Regions from separate parts of the Homo sapiens genome. Here region 1 is linked to region 2. A link means that fine-mapping ties the variant in region 2 to the expression of a gene that starts in the linked region. Tissue or cell type: whole blood. Region 2 holds a variant in brackets; the other region holds the start of a gene. All regions are shown on one strand. Distances are between the middles of the regions. Region 1 holds the start of AQP11 (aquaporin 11). Region 2 has its middle 6.6 kb from the start of LINC03030.

Region 1 (10,139 bases), 25 kb before region 2:
CCAAAGTAAGGAAGATTTGCTTGAAATCTGATTAACAGTTTATAGCTCTAATATGTTAATAAATCGCACAGCTTTTTTTTTTTTTACACGATTAGGGGAGCCAGTTAATACACGATAAATGGCAATGACATAACTGGGGCTCCATGTGCCATCAAAATTTGGGGTGCTAAATCAATAAATACACAGACACTTGGTCACTGGCTATCCTTAGGAGCCTGTGGCTATGTTGCTGGATGCTTATGTTCTGTAATCCTAAAATACATAAGTTATTTTGATGTACCCTGTATTGGTGACTTCTCAGTGCCCTCAAAATGCAAGTGATTAAAGAAATCTCCCAAGGTGCACCTTTGTCAAATCTGTACTTGTAGTATCCTAGAAGCTTAAAAAAGACATATCATAATAACTTGTAATGATGCCTGACTTAGCCAACTGTCCCAAGACAGTCCTATTTGTAACAACTCTGTTCCAAAGTTATGACTTATAGCCATAGAAAATAAAAGGGAGAGATGGGACTTAGTGCAGCATTTCCCAAAGTATGTTCTCTTCTGCTACACACTCCTAGACAAGAGGATCTCGTAAGTTTGAAAAACTGTGCTCCAAATCCTCCTCTTGGAGTTTCACAATACTTAGAAGCATAGTAAAGGCTCTATGAAGTCTTAAAATTAGAAAACCTGTTTAATCCAGTGTCTGCCAAATTTATTTGGCAACAACATCATTTTGTAACTTAAAAATTGTATAAATTATGGTGAAATATATATATACCATAAAGTATGCCATTTTAGCCATTTTTAAGTGTATAAGTCATTGGTGTTACATTCACCATGCTGTTTCACCAGCAGCACCATTTCCAAAGGTTTTCATAACATAAACAGAAACTTTGTACCCATTAAACAATAAGTCCCCATTCCTCCCTCCTCCCCACAGTCCCTGGTAACTCTATTCTACTTTCTGTCTCTATGAAGTTGCCTAATCTAGATATTTTGTATATGTAGAGCCATACAGTATTTGTCTTTTTGTGTCTGGCTTATTTTGCTTGGCATATTGTTTTTGAGGTTCATTCATGTTGTAGTATACATCATAACTTCATTCCTTTTTATGGCTGAATATATTCAATTGTGTATAGTTTTGTTAACTTTTGAGGAGCACACTGTGGAAATGCTGATAATGAATCCGTATGAGCTTTAGTGCCAGTTGGAACCATAGTTCTAACACAGTCTAGTTATGTAAGCTTAGATAAGTCATTTCACTTTTCTGGGCCTCACTTACTTTACTTAAAATGGGAAGAATATATTCATCGATGGGTTGTTTTTTTTTGTTTTTGTTTTTTTTTGAGACGGAGTCTCGCTCTCTCGCTCTGTCTCCCAGGCTGGAGTGCAATGACTCGATCTCGGCTCACTGCAAGCTCTGCCTCCCGGGTTCATGCCATTCTCCTGCCTCAGCCTCCCCAGTAGCTGGGACTACAGGCACCCGCCACCATGCCTGGCTAATTTTTTTGTATTTTTTAGTAGAGACGGGGTTTCACCGTGTTAGCCAGGATAGTCTCGATCACCTGACCTCGTGATCTGCCCGCCTCGGCCTCCCAAAGTGCTGGGATTACAGGCGTGAGCCACCGCGCCCGGCCGATGGGTTGTTGTAAGAATTAATTAAGATAACTCTCATAAATTTCCTTGCAAAATGCTTGGCCTATAACAGCTGACAACTGAATATTCTTATCTCCCTTATATTGGCAGAAAACAAACAAAGGGAAGATCATACTGCATTATAAATTTCTGTAACTAATAGTAATCAACAATTGTCTATTTTGTTCTACCCATGCAAACAGACTCTAGCACTGTCCAATCCTGTACCCACTAGCTACAGCACAATTTGACAACTGACCACTTGAAATGTGGCTACTCTGAATCTAATTTCAGTTAATTTAAGTGTAAACAGCCACATGCAGCTAGTGGCTACTGAATTGCACAGTGCAGGTCTAGACTCCTAAAGCAGTGCTTCTTTACCTTGGTTTCATAATGGGATCACCTGTGAAGCTTTACAATACACCGCTGCCTAGGCCCCTTGCCAGAGCAATTGGATTTTAATCTGTGGGCCCAGAACAAGGACGTTTAAAGAGCTCCCCAGGTGATTTTAATACAGAGAGAAACACTGCTCTAGTGTTCCCTTTATACTCTCCCTCTCCCCCATCAATTAGTACCCTCATTTCAAGAAAAAAAGGGCAGTGTTTTTGATCTGTTGATATTTTATAGATACTTCTAATAACTTTCCTTATATCTATGACTGGATCTATAACTCCAAGTATTATCTGTGTCTCTTCTCTCAAATTTTTTGTCACTGATAAAATAGGGAATGGCTAATATATACAGTATTATCTATGGAATCATAAATATGTATTAAAAGTAGACAGAAAGAATATCAACTTCAGGTTAATCAAGAGAGGGAAGAGGAACATAGGTATTGAAAAATCCAACTGTAGTTAATGTTCTATTGATGTAAAAATTCTTTTTTAAGTTTTTACTGCTTTTAATTGTAGAAATAAAGAGCTAAACCATAGCATAACTCTTTTTGCAGTGACAATTCTGTTCATATACAGGGGATGTTTCTGCTTTAGCTAAAATCTAAAACTTCAATAAATAAGCAACTACCCACCAATCCCTCAAATATGCCTGTACTTGTCACTCTTTTTCTCTTTTTCTTTTTTTTTTTCTTTTGAGACAGACAGGGTCTCTATAACCCAGGCTGGAGTGCAGTGGCACTATCACAGCTCACCACAATCTCAACCTCCTGGACTTGGGTGATCCTCCCACCTTAGCCTCCCAAGTAGTTGGGACTACAAGTGCGCACCAGCACGCCCGGCTAATTTTTGTATTTTTTGGAGAGATGGGATTTCTCTTATGTTGCCCAGGCTAGTCTCGAACGCCTGGGCTCAAGCGATCCACCTGCCTTGGCCTCCCAAAGTGTTGGGATGACAGGTGTGAGCCACCGTGCCCGGCCCCCTTCACTCTTCTATACCACTTATTTCCATTTATGTCTACTTAAAAAGTGGTACTAGACCTAAAGAAGGGGAAATTGATTGGGAAGGCTTGCTTTCTTTCTTTTTTTTGAGACAGAGTCTCACTGTTGTCGCCTGGGCTGGAGTAAAATGGCGCGATCTCAGCTCACTGCAACCTCCGCCTCCCGGGTTCCAGCAATTCTCCCGCCTCAGATTCCCGAGTAGCTGAGATTACAGGCGCCCACCACCATGCCTGGCTAAATTTTTTTTGTATTTTTAGTAGAGACGGGGTTTCACCATGTTGGCGAGGCTGGTCTCAAACTCCTGACCTCAGGTGATCCACCCACCTCGGTCTCCCAAAGTGCTGGGATTACAGGCGTGAGCCACCGCGCCCGGCTGAAGGCTTTCATTTTTACCCTAGAAGGTCAAGTACGTGTTTAGGAGTCCTTATCTTGAAGTTTGCTTCTAGTCATTGTTTCACTTTTAATGGGCAGAAGATTATTACCACAAATTTCCTTTGTTGTTATTTCTGCCTCCACAGTCTTTTATAATTTAGATGTAGTCCCAATAAAGATATTCTGTTGTAATCATTTAAAATGACACATTTCATCATTAAATACTTGTGTTTTGGATTTCCTCCTCCCACTTAGGACTAGATTGCCCACTGCATCTGAGATCTGTCAAAGTAAACAAATGGTTTAAAAGAAATCAACAGATTTCTCAAGAGTTATATTTTAAAAAGCATCTTTAATTTGAAGCAAGTTATCATTTAAACATTTTTCTTAATAGGTCACTTAAAAGTTCATGTATAACTCAAAATGAATTATTAAGGAAATAAGAAATTTCATAACTCAAAATGAATTATTAAGGAAATAAGAAATGACTTTAAATCATTTATAGGACTAAAATGGAACTACAAAATTTCTACCCTCCGCTCTTATACTAACCAATCATGTGCCTTGTGCTTTAAATCGAAAGGAACTTTGTAAAGCCAGGATCATTTTTCAGTAAGAGTATCCGAAACGATCTATACCACCTTGGCATGAAGAAAGAGGCAGTTAATAAGTTATCTTTCCTTTCTACCATTAAAACAATCCCTTTGTAGGATATCTGAACCCTTGGCAATATCTCACAGTATCTCAGTTTCAGCACAGAGGTGGCTCCTTTCTCTGGGTGTTCAAAGCAGCACTGCATGAAGGCTCTACGTGTCGGCCCTACTGGTTAAGAACGGGCTGCAAAATGGTTAGAATAACGGGGATACCAGCATTTACATCATAGCGGGATAGACGGTTTCAAATGTATTTTAGTAAAGAACTTACAGCCTCATGTCATAGAGGCTCTGGAAGTGCCAAGTATTTGGTGAGAATGACAAACCTGCATAGACCAAAAAGGTGATGAGTGCAGCCAGCAGGTGGATACGAAGCTTGGTTCGGACTTCCTGGAAGTGCAGCAGAGCGCTGTGGAAGAGAAAGGAGCAGACGGCCTCTGTGATGACCGCTTTGAGCAAGTCGACTCGGATGGGATTCTTGCAAGCGAAGCTCCTCTCGCTGACGTGATACTGGGTCAGACCCAAGCTCCACAAGGCGCTTGTGCAGTACCTGCTGCACAGGGCACTAACCAGCTGAGCCAATAGCCTCACCGCACCCGTCTCGGGGGACATGCCCCCCAGCATCATCTGCATCATCACGCCGCACGGGTTGCTGGACGTGCCCACCAGAGTCAGGCCATGCACAAGCGAGAAGAAGTAGACGAGCGTCAGCGTCCAGGTGGGGTGCGCGGGGTGCTGTTCGCTCAGCAGTTGCAGCTCGTGGGTGCAGCAGCAGAGCTGGAAGGTGGCTAGAAACTCCAGGACGAAGGCGTGGGCCACCGGCCTGTGCAGCTGCTGCCGGGCGACTACGCGGGCCAGCCCCATGAGCAGCACCACCGACAGCATCAGTCCCAGCGAGGTGCAGGTGTCCTGCAGCTCGGACCGGAGCCCCAGCAGCGGCGACATGGCTCCGTCGCCGCCTGAGCGGGTTGCGGGCTCCGGCTCTGGGTAGGAGGCGGTCTCCAGGCCCGAGTCCGAAGTCCGCAGCCCCTCCCCTCCTCACGCCCCTCGGGGCGGGACGAGCGGGAGGCTCCCGAGCGGCACACTTAAGAAGTCCTCCCCGCCTCCCCGGCTTGGCGCTGGGGTGTTGGAACCAGAGCCGAGGAGGCGGGGAGGCGGGGAGGCGGGGAGGCGCGGGGAGGCGCGGGGAGGCGAAGGGAGGTAGCCTAGGGCGCCGGCCGCAGGGCCAACGGTCAGCCGAGCCCACCGCGCACTCACCCTCCGCAGTCTCCCTCAGGGCCTTGTAGGCGGGCGCGGCGGCGGAGGGCCGGCGCGGCGCGGTCGACGCAGCGCTCTTGGTGCCCACTGCGCACGCGTGCTGCGGCCCTTGCGCCCCTGCGGGCGGTGACACCCGGACCACGGGGCGGAGAGGAGCGGCACGGCGCGGCGGAGCTCTGATGGTTGCTTTGCAGCGAGGACCTTAGAGTTTTTCTTTCCCCGCTCCACACTGTAAAACCGTGGAGCTGGAAAGACCGCTGAAGGCCATCTCACATAGCCACCTCGTTTTTATCAATGGGCGACTGAAATTGAGAGGGGAGACGCGGCGCAGGGGGCGGGTGAGTTAGTGGGCGTAGACCGGTGCGCAGGGCCTCCTGGAGCCTTGCTTTTCTTCACCTGCCAAAAAACATTTCTAAAAATGGTGGTAATATATGCCAGATAAAATTCGCCACTTTAATCAATTTAAGTGTATATTTCAGTGGCATCGATTACCCTCACAGTGTTGTTCAACAGTCACCTCTTTTTTCCAGAACTTGAGCGGTGATTCTTCAAAGTGTAGCCTAGTTTTAGCATGTGACTGTCTATAACCTTTGGCATGAACTCTTTACGTATAATATGAAACAGTTGTGTCTTACTGTTACATGCACTCTTCGTGAAGAGGAAACAACAGGTAACTGGAGAGGTCTGTTTCCAAGAACTGGGGGTCCTGGCGCACCTCTTCCATCTGCTTTGAAAGCAGGAATACGGCTGCGTGAGGTGGAGCGCGTCCGGAGTCCCAGCACGGAGAGGCTTAGGTGGGAAGACCGCTTGACCCCAGGAGTTCCAGGCTGCAGTGAGCTGAGATCGCGCCACTGCACCCCTGCCTGGGCCACAGAGCGAGACGCTGTTTTTAGAAACAAAAACAACAACAAAAACCGGGCGCGGCTGGGCGCGGTGGCTCACGCCTATAATCCCAGCACTTTGGGAGGCCGAGGCGGGCGGATCACCGGAGGTCGGGAGTTCGAGACTAGCCTGACCAACATGAGAAACCCCCGTCTCTACTAAAAATACAAAATTAGCCGGGCATGGTGGCGCATGCCTGTCATCCCAGCTACTCGGGAGGATGATGCAGGAGAATCGCTTGAACCCGGGAGGCAGAGGTTGTGGTGAGCCTAGATCGCGCCATTGTACTCCAGCCTGGGCAACAAGAGCGAAACTCCGTCTCAAAAACAACAACAACAACAACAACAACAACAACAAACCAGTCAAACAAACAAAAAACAAAACATGAAAGCCACTTAGTACAGTTCCCAATACGTAGAAAATATTCACTAAGTGGTAGCTTACAGTGGAAACAGCAGGTTTCAGCAGCCAGAGTGCACGGCTCTTGCCACCGCATTCCAGTCCCAACAGCTTGTCCCCTGGGGTGGCCCATTGTAGGTGCAGCACTTTGGGAGTCCGAGGCAGGCGGATAACGAGGTCAGGAGTTCAAGACCAGCCTGGCCAACATAGTGAAACCCCGTCTCTACTAGAAATACAAAAATTAGCTGGGCATGGTGGTGCGCACATGTAGTCCCAGCTACTCGGGAGGCTGAGGCAAGAGAATCCCTTGAACCCGGGAGGTGGAGGTTGCAGTGAGCCAAGACAGTGCCACTGCACTCCAGTTTGAGCAACAGAGTGAGACTTCGTCTAAAAAAAAAAAAAATTCTTTCACAAGACACAAACTAGTAGAAAATCAAGACCTTTTCTCTTTCCTGTGTTGATTGCCTGGCCAGAAAGAATTTAAATTAGAATTATTTATTATTATTATTTTTTTAAGACAGAGTCTCGCTCTGTCTCCCAGACTGGAGTGTAATGGCGTGATCTCAGCTCACTGCAACTTCTGCTCCCGGGTTCACGCCATTCTCCTGCCTCAGCCTCCCGAGTAGCTGGGACTACAGGCGCCTGCCACCACACCTGGCTTTTTTTTTTTTTTTTTTTTTTTTTTTTTTTTTTTTTTTGTATTTTTTAGCAGAGATGGCGTTTCACTGTGTTAGCCAGGATGATCTTGATCTCCTGACCTTGTGATCTGCCCGCCTCGGCCTCCCAAAGTGCTGGGATTACAGGCGTGAGCCACCGCGCCCGGCAATTAGAATTACTTTTAAGTCACTGCTGTTTAAAGAAGTTGCCTTTAAATCAATCCTATGAATGTAACCCTTTCAGTGCTCCCCTAGACTTGAAGTCACTTGAGGATTAATGTGAATGTATTTTATTTACTGCTCTGCTGATAATTCACTTTTACCCGGAAGAGTCATGTAGAAAACCAGTGTTTTGGACTTTGGTAAGAAATTTTAGTATCGTGGTAATACATATTGTCATTAAAAGGACTTTGGACATTTTTTAAATTAAAGAACAAGGGCAAAATTAACATAATTAATTACTACTGATTGGATATTTTGCATCAAATCAACCTTCCTATTTTCAGAAACAAGAAATCACCAATTAAAGTCTCTTGAGAGTGACATCATGGACGAAGACCTCTGTTAGCTTTGGTAAAACAGCAGTAAAAACAGTCCTTGCTCTTGAATAGCATAGAAGAGGGAACAGAAGAGAAAACAAAATTAAAATATAGTGTAAAAGTACAATGGTAAAAGAAGAAAGGCCTGGGCACAGGGAGGGGCCCCCACTCAGACTTAAGGAAAGGCTCCTTGGAGGAAGTGTCATCCTAGCTGAAACCTGAAGAATAAATAGGAGTTAAGGGGTAAAGAGAAGAGGGAGAAAGAAGAGAGGCAGAGGCACTGCATTTTGCAAACAGAGAAAGCCTAGAGGAGTCCCCGTGCTCTAGGCTGGAGTATGAAGGGGGAAGTAGCAAGAGATCAAGGTTAAAAGAAATAATGCCTGAAAAAGATTTAGTACATGGCCCAGCACATAGTAGTGCTTAATAAGGTTTAATATATAAAAATGGAGGTAAAATAGACGATAGTTCAATAATCATGGATTTTGCCCTGAAGCTTCAGACAAGACAAAGCGAAATGAAGAAAAAAAAAAACCCCTGCCAAAATTCAGAATTGCATTTCGTTAACATCTGCGAGGAGATAAAGCATTTAAGAGCTTCTGCACCAGGCGCGGTGGCTCACGCCTGTAATCCCAGCACTTTGGGAGGCCGAGGTGGGTGGATCACCTGAGGTCAGGAGTTTGAGACCAGCCTGGCCAACATGGTGAAACCCTGTCTCTACTAAAAATACAAAAATTAGCCAGGCGTGTTGGCACATGCCTGTAGTCCCAGCTACTCAGGAGGCTGAGGCAAGAGAATAGCTTGAACCCGGGAGGTGGAGGTTGCAGCGAGCCAAGATTATACCACTAAACTCCAGCCTGGGCAACATGGTGAGACTCCATCTCAAAAAAAAAAAAAAAGAGCTTCTGAAGCCATGTCCTTTGGCTTGACGTTTACGTGGGAAGAAACATGGGAAGAATTTAAGTAATTGCATTTTAAAAGTATTTTATTTTGAAATAATCTCAGGCTTTCAGAAAAGTTGCAAGTATAGTACAAAATTTTTTTTTCCTGAACCATTTGAAAATTAATTGTTAATATTATGCCCAATTACTCAGAACATTTTAGGGTGTATTTTCTTAAACATCTGTGTCCTACATAGCCATAATAAGACTATCAAAATCAGGAAATTAACATTGTTACTACCATCTACTCCTCAGATCCCATTCAAGTTTTGCCAGTTGTCGCAACATTGTACTTCTTAGCAAAAGGATCCAATTCAGAATTGCACATTGCATTTAGTGTCATGTCTCATGAGTTTCCTTCAATCTAGAAAAGTTCCTCAGCTCTTCCTTGACTTTCATCACCTGGACAATTTTGAGGTTACAGATCAGTTATTTTGTAAAATCTCCTTGAATTTGGGTTTGCCTAATGTTTCCTAGATACTAGTTTCAGGTTAAGTGTCTTTTTTTTTTTCTTTTTTTGAGACAGAGTCTCACTGTGTTGCCCAGGCTGGAGTACAGGGGCGTGATCGCGGCTCAATGCAGCCTTACAGGGTATGCATCTTTAGCAGGAATATCACAGAAGTGATGCCATATTTTTCTCATTGTGTTTTATCAGATGTGTACTCCAAAAATCTGAGACATGTCTCAGTTAATTTAGAAAGTTTATTTCGCCAAGGTTGAGGATGCGTGCCTATGACACAGCCTCAGAAGGTCCTGATGACATTTACCTGAGGTGGTCACAGCACAATTTGGTTTTATACATTTTAGGAAGTCATGAGACATCAATCAATATATGTAAGAAGAACGTTGGTTCAGTCTGGAAAGGCATGACATCTTGAAGCAGGAAGGGGGCTTCCAGGTCATAGGTACGTAAGAAAAAAATGGTTGCATTGTTTTAAGTTTCTGATTAGCCTCCTCAAAAGAGGCAGTCAGATATGTTTTTATCTCAGTGAGCAGAGGGGTGACTTTGAATAGAATGGGAGGCAGATTTGCCCTAAGCAGTTTCCAGCTTGACTTTTCCCTTTAGCGTATTGATTTTTGGGGGCATAAGATATTTTCCTTTCACATTTCCCACTTTTCTTTTTAAAAATCTTTTGGAAAAAGCATTTTAGAAGAAAATGAGTTTGTGGTCTCAGGTTTCATCTGATCTGTCATGGCTAGGATGGTTTATTCCTAAACAAGTAGGTCCTGAGTTATTAGGAAAGTTCATTTTTAGAGGGTTGTGAAGTCTCATGTCCTATGAAAAGAAAACGGGGAGCAAGGGAGAAAAACAACAAACAAAAGAACAATCCTGAAAAATCATTATAGGCTGGATTACTCTGAAGTCCATACATCAGTAGGCAAGTATGAAAGTGGCTTATGTATGTAAATAGGTTGCTGTTATTTTCTTCT
Region 2 (10,139 bases):
ACTTGTGGGAGGGAGAGTGCAGTGATTATGGGACTTTGCATTAGAGCTCAGTGCTGCCCTGTCACAGCAGAAAACAACACAAGGCAGAACTCAGCTGGAGGCCAAGGAGGGAGCATTTGCATCAGCCCTAGCCAGAGGCATATTACCCATCCCAGTGGTCAGAACTTGACCTCTGGCAAGCCACCACCATTTGGTAAAGGGCTCTGGGGTCCTAAGTAAACTTGAAAGGCAGTCTAGGCCCTAAGGATTGCAATTGCTGGGCAAGTCCTGGTGCTGTGCTGGGCTTGGAGCCAGGGTACTCGTACTCAGGTACATGTAACATGTACATGGAGCCAGGGAGGCCAAGGCAGTGCTTGCATCATCCCTCTCCCAACCTCAGGCAGTGCAGTTCACAGCTCTGGGAGAGACTCCTTCCCTCTACCTGAGGAGAGAAGGGAGAGTAAAGAGGACTTTGTCTTGCAGCTTGGATACCTGCTCAGCCACAGCAGGATAGGGCACCAGACAGAGTCCTGAGGACCCCATTCCAGGGTCTAGCCATCACATGACATTTCAAGACACACCCTGGGCCAGAAGGGAACCAACTGCCTTAAAGGGAAGGAATAATCAGCGGTGGTAACCAGGCATTATTCCTCCTGGGCCTTGGGTAAAACTCAGAGCTGTGTTGCCTTTAGATGTGACCCAGCACATTCCTAGCTGTGGTGGCTACTTGAAGAAAGAAGACGGAGGAGTAAAGGGCATTTTGTCTTATAGCTTGGGTACCAGCTCAGCCACAGTGGGATAGAGCACCAAGCAGGCTCTTGGTGTCCCCAGTTCCAGGTCTTGGCTCATGGATGGCATTTCTGGACCTGCCCTGGGCCAGAGGGGAGTCCTTTTCCCTGAAGGGTGAGTCCCGGGCCTCACAGCATTCACCGCAAGCTGATTGAAGAGCCCTTGGACGTTGAGTGAACATTGGTGGTAGCCTGGCAGTACTTGCCACGGGCTCAGGGCAGCAGTAGCCATGAAGAGAGACTCCTGTTTGTGGAAAGGGGAGGGAAGAGGGGGAAGGACTTTGTTTTGTGGCTTGGATGCCAGCTCAGCAGCAGTAGATAAGATTTCTAAGGTTCCTGGCTCCAGACTCTGGCTCCCAGTGGCATCTTTGGACACACCCAGGGCCAGGGGGACCTTACCACCCTAAAAGGAAGGACACAAGCCTGCTGTATTTGCCACCTGCTGATTGTAGATCTCTTGGGTCTTGAGTGAACCTAAGTGGTAGTCAAGCAACGGTCACTGTGGACCTTGGGTGAAACCCAGTGCTATGTTTGTTTCAGGTCTGACCCAGGACAGTCCCAGTGGTGGTGACCACAGGGGAACTTATGTCACCCCTCTCCCAGCTCCAGGAAGTTCAGTACAGAGAGAGAGAGACTTCATTTGTGGGGGAAAGTAAAGGATGAGAACAAGAGTCTCTACCTGGTAATCCAGGGAATTCTCCTAAATCTTACCCAAGACCACTAAGGCACTACTTCTGAGTCTGCAAGAGCCACAACATTACTGGACTTGGGGTTTCCCCTAGTGCAGATACGGCTGCAGTGATAAAAAACTTAAATCACAGCATCCAAGTCCCTTCGAATGGCTGGAAATCCTTCCCAAGAAGGACAGGTACAAACAAGCCCAGACTGTGAAGACTATAATAAATACCTAATTCTTCAATGCCCAGACACCGATGAACATCCACAAGCATCAAGACCATCCTGGAAAACATGACCTCACCGAATGATCTAAATAAAGCACCAGCCACCAGTCCCGGCTGTCTCTTAGCAAAACTGATCAAGCAGAAGAAAGAATTAGTGAGTTTCAAGACAGGCTGTTTGAAAATACACAGCCAGAGGAGACAAAAAAGAATTAAGAAGAAGGAAGCATGACTGCAAGATCTAGAAAATAGCCTCAAAGGGGGAAATCTAAGAGTTATTGGCCTTATAGATCTGGGTAGAAAGTTTATATAAAGAGGTAACAGATAGTTTTCCAAACCTAGAAAAGGATATCAATATTTAAGTACAAGAAGGTTGTAGAACACCAAGCAGATTTAGCCCAAATAAAAGTACCTTGAGACACTTAATAACCAAACTCCCAAAGGTCAAGGGTAAAGAAAGGACCCTAAAAGCAGCAAGGGGAAAAGAAACAAATTACATACAATGGAGCTCTAATATGCCCAGGAGCAGACTTTTCAGTGGAAATCTTAAAGGCCAGGAGAGAGTGGTGGGACAAATTTACAGTGCTGAAGGAAAAAAACTTTAATACTAGAATAGTATATCCAGTGAAAATATCCTTCAAACATAAAGGAGAAACAACGAATTCCCCAGACAAACAAAAGCTGAGGGAGTTCATCAACACCAGACCTGTCCTACCAGAAATGCAAACGAGAGTTCTTCAATCTGAAAGAAAAGAATGCTAATGAGCAATAAGAAGTCATCTGAAGATATAAAACTCACTGGTAATAGTAAGTACACAGAAAAGCACAGAATATTATAACACTGTAATTTTGGTATGTAAACTGCTCGTATCTGCAGTAGAAAGACTAAAAGACGAACCTGTCAGTGTTACAGCTTTTTTAGAATTTGTCCAGCAGGCTTTCTTGTTTTCACTGGAAGCCTCCCTCGCAAAAAATGAACCTGTCAAAAATAAGAAGTACAACAACTTTCCAAGATACAGACAATATAATAAGATATAAATAGAAAAAGCAAAAAGGTAAAAAGCAAGCAGATGAAGTTAAAATGTAGAGTTTTTATAAGTTTTCTTATTGCATGTTTGTTCATTTGTTTATGCAACCAGTGTTAAGTTGTCATCAGCTTAAAATATGGGTTGTAAGATATTATCTGCAAGCTGTATGGTAACCTCAAATTGAAAAACATACAACAGATACATGAAAAATAAAAAGCAAGAATTTAAAACATACCACCAGAGAAAATCACCTTCACTACAAGGAAGACAGGAAGAAAGGAAAGAAGGAGGTGAAGACTACAAAACAACCAGAAAACAAATAAAAGGCAGTAATAAGTTCTTATCAATAATAACATTGAATATAAATGGACTAAACTTCAATCAAAAGACACAGAGTGGCTGAATGGATTAAAAAAACAAGACCCAATGATCTACTGCCTGCAAGAAATATACTTCTCCTATGAAGACACATAAACACTGAAAATAAATGGATGGAAAAAGAAAGGGCAGGAGTAGCTATATTTTTTTAAGACAAAATACATTTCAGGACAAAACCTATTTTAAAAAGACAAAGAATATTATTGTAAAATGATAAAGGGGTCAATTTAGCAAGATAATAACAGTTATAAAAATATATGCACTCAACACAGGAGCACCCAGACATATAAAGCACATATTATTAGAGCTAAAGAGAGAGAGAGACCCCAATGCAATAATAGCTGGAGCCTTCTACACCACATTTGCAACATTGGACAGATCATCCAGACAGAAAATCAAAAAAGAAACATCAGACTTCGTTTGCACTATAGACCAAATGGACCTAATAGATATTTACAGAACATTTCATCCAACAGCTACAGAATACGCATTCTTCTCCTCAGCACTTACATCACTTTTGAGGATAGACTATATGTTAGACCACAAAATAAGACTTTAAAAATTGAAAAAAAAAGCCAGACTTGGTGGCTCACGCCTGTATTCCCAGCACTCTGGGAGGCCGAGGCGGGCAGATCACCTGAAGTTGGGAATTCGAGACCAGCCTGACCAACATGGAGAAACCCTGACTCTACTAAAAATACAAATAAAATGAGCTGGGTGTGTAGGCGCATGCCAGTAATCCCAGCTACTTGGAAGGCTGAGTCAGGATAAGCGCTTGAACCCAGGAGACGGAGGTTGTGGTGAGCCGAGATCGCACCATTGCACTCCAGCCTGGACAACAAGAGTGAAACTCCATCTCAAAAAAAAAAAAAAGAAAAAGAAAAAATTGAAAAATAATTGAAAAAAAATAAATTATATCAGGTATCTTCTCTTACTACAATGGAATACAGCCAAAAATCAATAATAAAAGGATTTTTGAAAACTATACAAACATATGGAAATTAAACAATATGCTCCTGAGTGATCATGGGTCAATGAAGAAATTAAAAAAGAATTTTTAAAATGTCTTGCAACAAATGAAAATGGAAACACAACATGCCAAAACCTATGGGATACAACAAAAGCAGTATGAAGAGGAAAGTTTATAACAATAAGCACCTACATTTAAAAAAAAAACATCAAACAAACATCCTAATGATGCATCTTAAAGACCTAGAAGGCCAGCTTGGTGGCTCACACCTGTGGCCCGCACTTTGGGAGGTTGAAGTGGGCAGATTGCTTGAGCCCAGGAGTTCAAGACCAGCCTGGGCAACATGTCAAAACCCCATCTATATAGAAAATACAAAAGAGAGAGAGAGGGAAAGAGAGAGAGAGAGAGAGACAGCGAGCTAGAAAAGCAAGAGTAAATCAAACCCAAAATTAGAAGAAAAGAAATAATAAAGATCAGAGCAGAAATAAATGCATTTGAAATGAAGAAAACAATACAAAAGATCAACAAAATGAAAAGCTGCTTTTTTTTTTTTTTTGAGACTGAGTCTTGCACTGTTGCCCAGGCTGGAGTGTAGTGGTGCGATCTCGGCTTATTGCAACCTCTGCCTCTTGGGTTCAAGCAATTCTCCTACCTCAGCCTCCCGAGTAGCTAAGATTACAGGCACCTGCCACCACGCCTGGCTAATTTTTCTTTTTCTTTTTTTTTGTACTTTTAGTAGACACAGGGTTTCACCATATTGGTCAGGCTGGTTTTGAACTCCTGACCTCATAATCCACCCACCTTGGCCTCCCAAAGTGCTGGGATTACAGGCGTGAGCCACTGCGCCTGGCCGAAAAGTTGCATTTTTGAAATGATAAACAAAAGTGACAAACCTTTAGCCAGACTAAGAAAAAAAGAAGTTCCAAATGAATAAAATCAGAGATGAAAAGGAAGACATTACAACTGATACCACAGAAATTCAAACTTCGTTATAGACTACTATGAACAACTGTATGCCAATAAATTGGAAAAACCTAGAAGAAATGGATAAATTCCTAGACACCTACAACTTACCAAGATCGAACCATGAAGAAATACAAATCCTGACTAGACCAGTAACAAATAATGGGATTAAAGGTGTAATAAAAGTCTCCCAGCAAAGTAATGCTCAGAGCCCAATGGCTTCGCTGCTGAATTCTACCAAACATTTAAAGAAAAACTAATAACAGTCCAACTTAAGTTATTCCAAAAAATAGAGGAGGCAGGAATACTTTTCCAAACTCATTCTATAAGACAAGTATTACCCTGATACCAAAACCACACAAAGACACATCAAAAAAAGAAAACTAAGGGCCAGTATCTCTGGTGAACATTGATGCAAAAATCTTAACAAAATATTGGCAAACTGAATTTAACAACACATTAATAAGATCATTTATCATGACCAAGTGGAATTCATCCCAGGGATACAAAGATGGTTCAACTTAATCAATGTAATACATCATATCAACAGAATGAGGGACAAAAATCATGTGATCATTTCAATTGCTGCCAAAAAAGCATTTG[G/A]TAAAATTCAACATCCTTTCATGATAAAAATCCTCAGCAAACTGGGTGTAGAAGGAACATGCCTCAACACAATAAAAGCTATATATGACAGACCCACAGCTGGTATCACACTGAATGGGGAAAAACTGAAAGCATTTTCTCTAAGTTCTGGAACAAGACAAGGAAGTCCCCTTTCACCACTGCTATTCAACATAGTACTGAGCAATCAGACTAGAGAAAGAAATAAAAAGCATCCAAATTGAAAAGAAAGAAGTCAAATTGTCCTTGTTTGCAAATGATAAGAGCTTATATTTGGAAAAACCTAAAGACTCCACCATAAAACTACTAGAACTGACAAACAAATTCAGTAAAGTTGCAGAACACAAAATCAACATACAAAAATCAGTAGCATTTCTATATTCCAACAGTGAACAATCTGAAAAAGAAATAAAGTAATCTTATTTATAATAGCTACAAATAAAATATCAAGGAATAAACTTAGCCAAATAAGTGAAATATCTCTACAATGAAAACTATGAAACACTGATACAAGAATTGAAGAGGACACCCAAAAAGTGAAAAGATATTCCCTGTTCATGAATTAGAAGAATCAATATTATTAAAATGTCTATATTACTCTAAGCACTCTACAGATTCAGTGCAATCCCTATCAAAATATAAGTGACATTCTTCACAGAAATGTAATCCTAAAATATATATGGAACTGCAAAAGACCCAGAATAGCTAAATCCATCCTGAGCAAAAAGTACAAAACTGGAGGCATCACATTACCTGACTTCAAATTATACTACAGAGCAATAGTAACCAAAACAGTATGGTGCTGGCATAAAACCAGACACATAGACCAGTGAAACAGAATAGAGAACTCATAAACAAATCCATATAACTACAGTGAACATTTTTGACAAAGATGCCAACAACATACCTTGGGGAAAGGACAGTCTCTTCAATTAATGATGGTGGGAAAACTGGATATCCATATGCAAAAGAATGAAACTGGACTCCTATCTCTCACCATATACAAAAATAAAATTGAAGTGGATTAAAGACTTAAATCTAAGAACTGAAACTATGAAACTACTAAAATAGAACATTGGGGAAACTTTCCAGGGGTATTTTGTGGGTCTGTCATATATGTCTTTTATTTGTAGCTATTGGGTAAGGATTTCTTGAGTAATAGCTCATAAACACAGGCTACCAAACAAAAATGGACAAATGGGATCACATCAAGTTAAAAAGCTTCTACACAGCAAAGGAAACAATCAACAGAGTAAAGAGGAAACCCACAGAATGAAAGAAGATATTTGCAAACTATCCATCTGACACGATATGAATAACCAGAATATATAAGGAGCTCAAACAACTCAAAGGGAAAGATATAATAATCTGATTAAAAAATGGATAAAAGATCTGAATAGACTTTTCTCAAAAGAAAACATACAAATGGGAAACAGGTATTTAAAAAGGTGAAATGCAAATGAAAACTACAATGAGATATCATCTCACCCTAGTTAAAATTGATTTTATCCAAAAGATAGTCAATAACAAACACTGGCACAGATGTGGAGAAAGGGGAACCCTCATACACTGTTGATGGGAGTACATATTAGTTTAACCCCTATGGAGAACAGTATAGAATTTCCTCAAAAAACTAAACATGGAGCTACCATATGATCCAAGAATCCCATTGCTAGGTATATACTCAAAGGAAATCAGTATGTTGAAGACATATCTGCACTCCCTTGTTTACTGCAGCACTATTCACAATAGCCAAGATTTGGAAGCAACCTCAATGTCCATCAACAGATGAATGGATAAAGAAAATGTAGTATATATACACAATGGAGTACTATTCACCCATAAAAGAGAATGAGATCCTGTCATTTGCAACAACATGGATGGAACTGGAGGACATTATATTAAGTGAAATAAGCCAGGCACAGAAAGACAAACTTCTCATGTTCTTACTCATTTGTGGGAGCTAAAAGTTAAAACCATTGAACTCACAGAGAGTGTAGAGTGATGGTTACCAGAGACTGAGAAGGCCAGTGGGTGAGAAATGGGGATGGGTAACATATATAAAAATATAGTTAGATACAATGAATAAGATCTAGTGTTTGATAGCACAACAGGGTGACTGCAGTCAGCAATAATTTGTCGTATATTTTAGAATAACTGAGGGAGTACAGTTGGAATGTTTGTAACACAAAGAAAGGATGAATGCTTGAGGTGATGGATACCAATTTATCCTGATGTGGTTACTACACATTGTATGCCTGTATCAAAATATCCCATACACTCCATAAATGTATACACTTACTATGTACCCATAAAAATTAAAAATTAAAAAAATAATTTCTCTAGCTTTATCTTACATGTTTTACCACCAGCTAACATATATAACATTAATAATTAACATCCCAGGAATAATCCAGTACTGAAGTCCCAATGCTCCACCAAGTGAACCTTGCCCTCCCATGAAAGAACACTTTAAGAAGCTACTGACTTACTCACCATTGCTCTAGTGCAGTACTACCACCCTTGGCCCTGGGCAGACAGGGCCCTGTCACCCTCCATCCCGCTGTGGAGTACCCACCTTGAAATTTTAAGTTTCTCTCTTTTGACTGGGACAGGCTGGGGCTAGTAGTGTTCTCCAGGTGGGGTGCTCTAAACTCAGTTTCTCCCCTTCAAGTGCTCTCTAACCTTCTTCCTAGTGCATGGGGTCAAACAGATGTCCTGAGGAGCTGTAGAACGTGTGCCTATGGAATGGTCTCAGAGCCCAGTGGCCAGGCCACATTTCCAAAAGGACAGCCTGTGGGGCAGATCACTCCTGCTGGCTAGCACAATATTATTTTACTGGCTCATGTGAAGTTGGACCATTAGGATGGTGCCGATGCAGATTTCGGTTGACTGTCACAAGCAGACACTGAGCTGCTATACCTTAGCACTTTGTTGATCTTCCCCCTCACATATCTTGGAATTTCTGCTCCTTCTCTACTACTGACCTTTTGGCTTGGGCTGCATGTGTGGGCCTGTCCACTGACTCTTGCCTGTGTACACTGTGACACCTCCTATCCAGAGCACTCTTGTGCAGATGGGCCACTCATCTATTCTGCCTGCTGATGAAAGGGAAGGGTTCCACTGATACTGAGGAAGATTACATTCAAGGAAATGCAATGATAACACCCTAATGAGTTCAAGAGAAGACATAGTTGGAAGGTGAGTCATGTGGTTGTGCCATAAAATCTGAAATGATAGGCTGGGCATGGTGGCTCATGCCTGTAATCCCAGAACTTTGGGAGGCCCAGGCGGGGGGATCACCTGAGGTCAGGAGTTCGAGACAAGCCTGACCAACATGGAGAAACCTTGTCTCTACTAAAAATACAAAATTAGCCAGGCGTGGTGGTGCATGCCTGTAATCCCAGCTACTCGGGAGGTTGAGGCAGGAGAATTGCTTGAACCTGGGAGGCAGAGGTTGCAGTGAGCCGAGATCGCACCATCGCACTCCAGCCTGGGCAACAAGAGTGAAACTCTGTCTCAAAAAAAAAAAAAAATCTGAAATGATAATTTAACATTACCAGAAAAGTAGTTATCATTTCCATTCAGACTCTGGATAAGACGTGCATTTGTGTTAGTCATCAATGAAGCATGATAACAATCTTTATAACAGAGCCACTGGAGCCACGTGCTTATGGTGGATGATTCAGTGTCATGAGTTAAAGGTTTTGAGGATCAGCAGAAGCCAAAAGGTCTATATTGCTTCAATACAAACAGGTTCCAAGCAGTCATGGCATTGTGAGTAATAACAGCATTGCTACCTTCTTCAGGAGTAGGAGCCATGAAACCAGCAAGGAATGGTGCATTTGAAAATAAAGAACATAAAAAGGTGGTTCTCAAACCAGAACAGAAAGACACGGCACCTGGACACTACAAAGAATCTTCATGCGCACTGACTTGACAACAAATACCTGAATACCTCTTCTATACTCATTCTAAATCTTCATCAGTAAATCACCATAGCTCACATGAGCTCATGAGTTTTGCAATACATTTTAAAACATATTGTTAATATTAACATTCCCCCCACCCGTACACACACCCACACACACTGGCCCAGGGCCTTGCACACTCCAGGGAAATAGTTTTCTGTGGAAGGTGGTGGCAGCAAGTTTGCACCCCCCTCCACCCCACCACCCCTTGGGGCATTTGGCATTGTCTGTAGACAGTTTTGATTGTCACAGCAGGTGGGAGCGGGCATTGCTACTGGCATCTAGCAAGCAGAGGCCAGGGATCCTATGAAACATCCTGCAGTGCACAGGACAGCACCCAGGACAAAGAATTGATTTGGTCCCAAATGCTATTAGTGCCAAGATTAAGAAACTCTGTTAGGGCATCCCTGTTCTAGTAAACTTATTCTTAGGCTTATCTGTTCCCCTACAGCAGTGTTTTTCAAAAGGAGCCACAGACCACTGCCTCAGACTCACATGGATGTCATTTAAAATGCCTACTTGCTGGGCACAGTGGCTCACAC

What was found. PIP is the estimated chance that this variant, and not a neighbour inherited with it, causes the effect.
Region 1: it holds the start of AQP11, and the variant in region 2 is fine-mapped to the expression of AQP11 in whole blood (INTERVAL, PIP 0.92).

What each region holds. Positions count from the first base shown.
Region 1 is chr11:77,584,836-77,594,974 of GRCh38, reverse strand. AQP11 (aquaporin 11) reads right to left here and starts at 5,022. Exons shown (of 3, transcript NM_173039.3): 1 at 4,364-5,022. The coding sequence starts at 4,982. RefSeq lists silencers at 564-764, 5,046-5,675.
Region 2 is chr11:77,559,424-77,569,562 of GRCh38, reverse strand. It overlaps the pseudogene RNU7-59P. Among named protein-coding and RNA genes, the nearest start is that of LINC03030, 6.6 kb to the left of the region's middle. RefSeq lists enhancers at 9,145-9,439, 8,471-9,670. The variant G/A (reference allele first, on the strand shown) is at 5,609.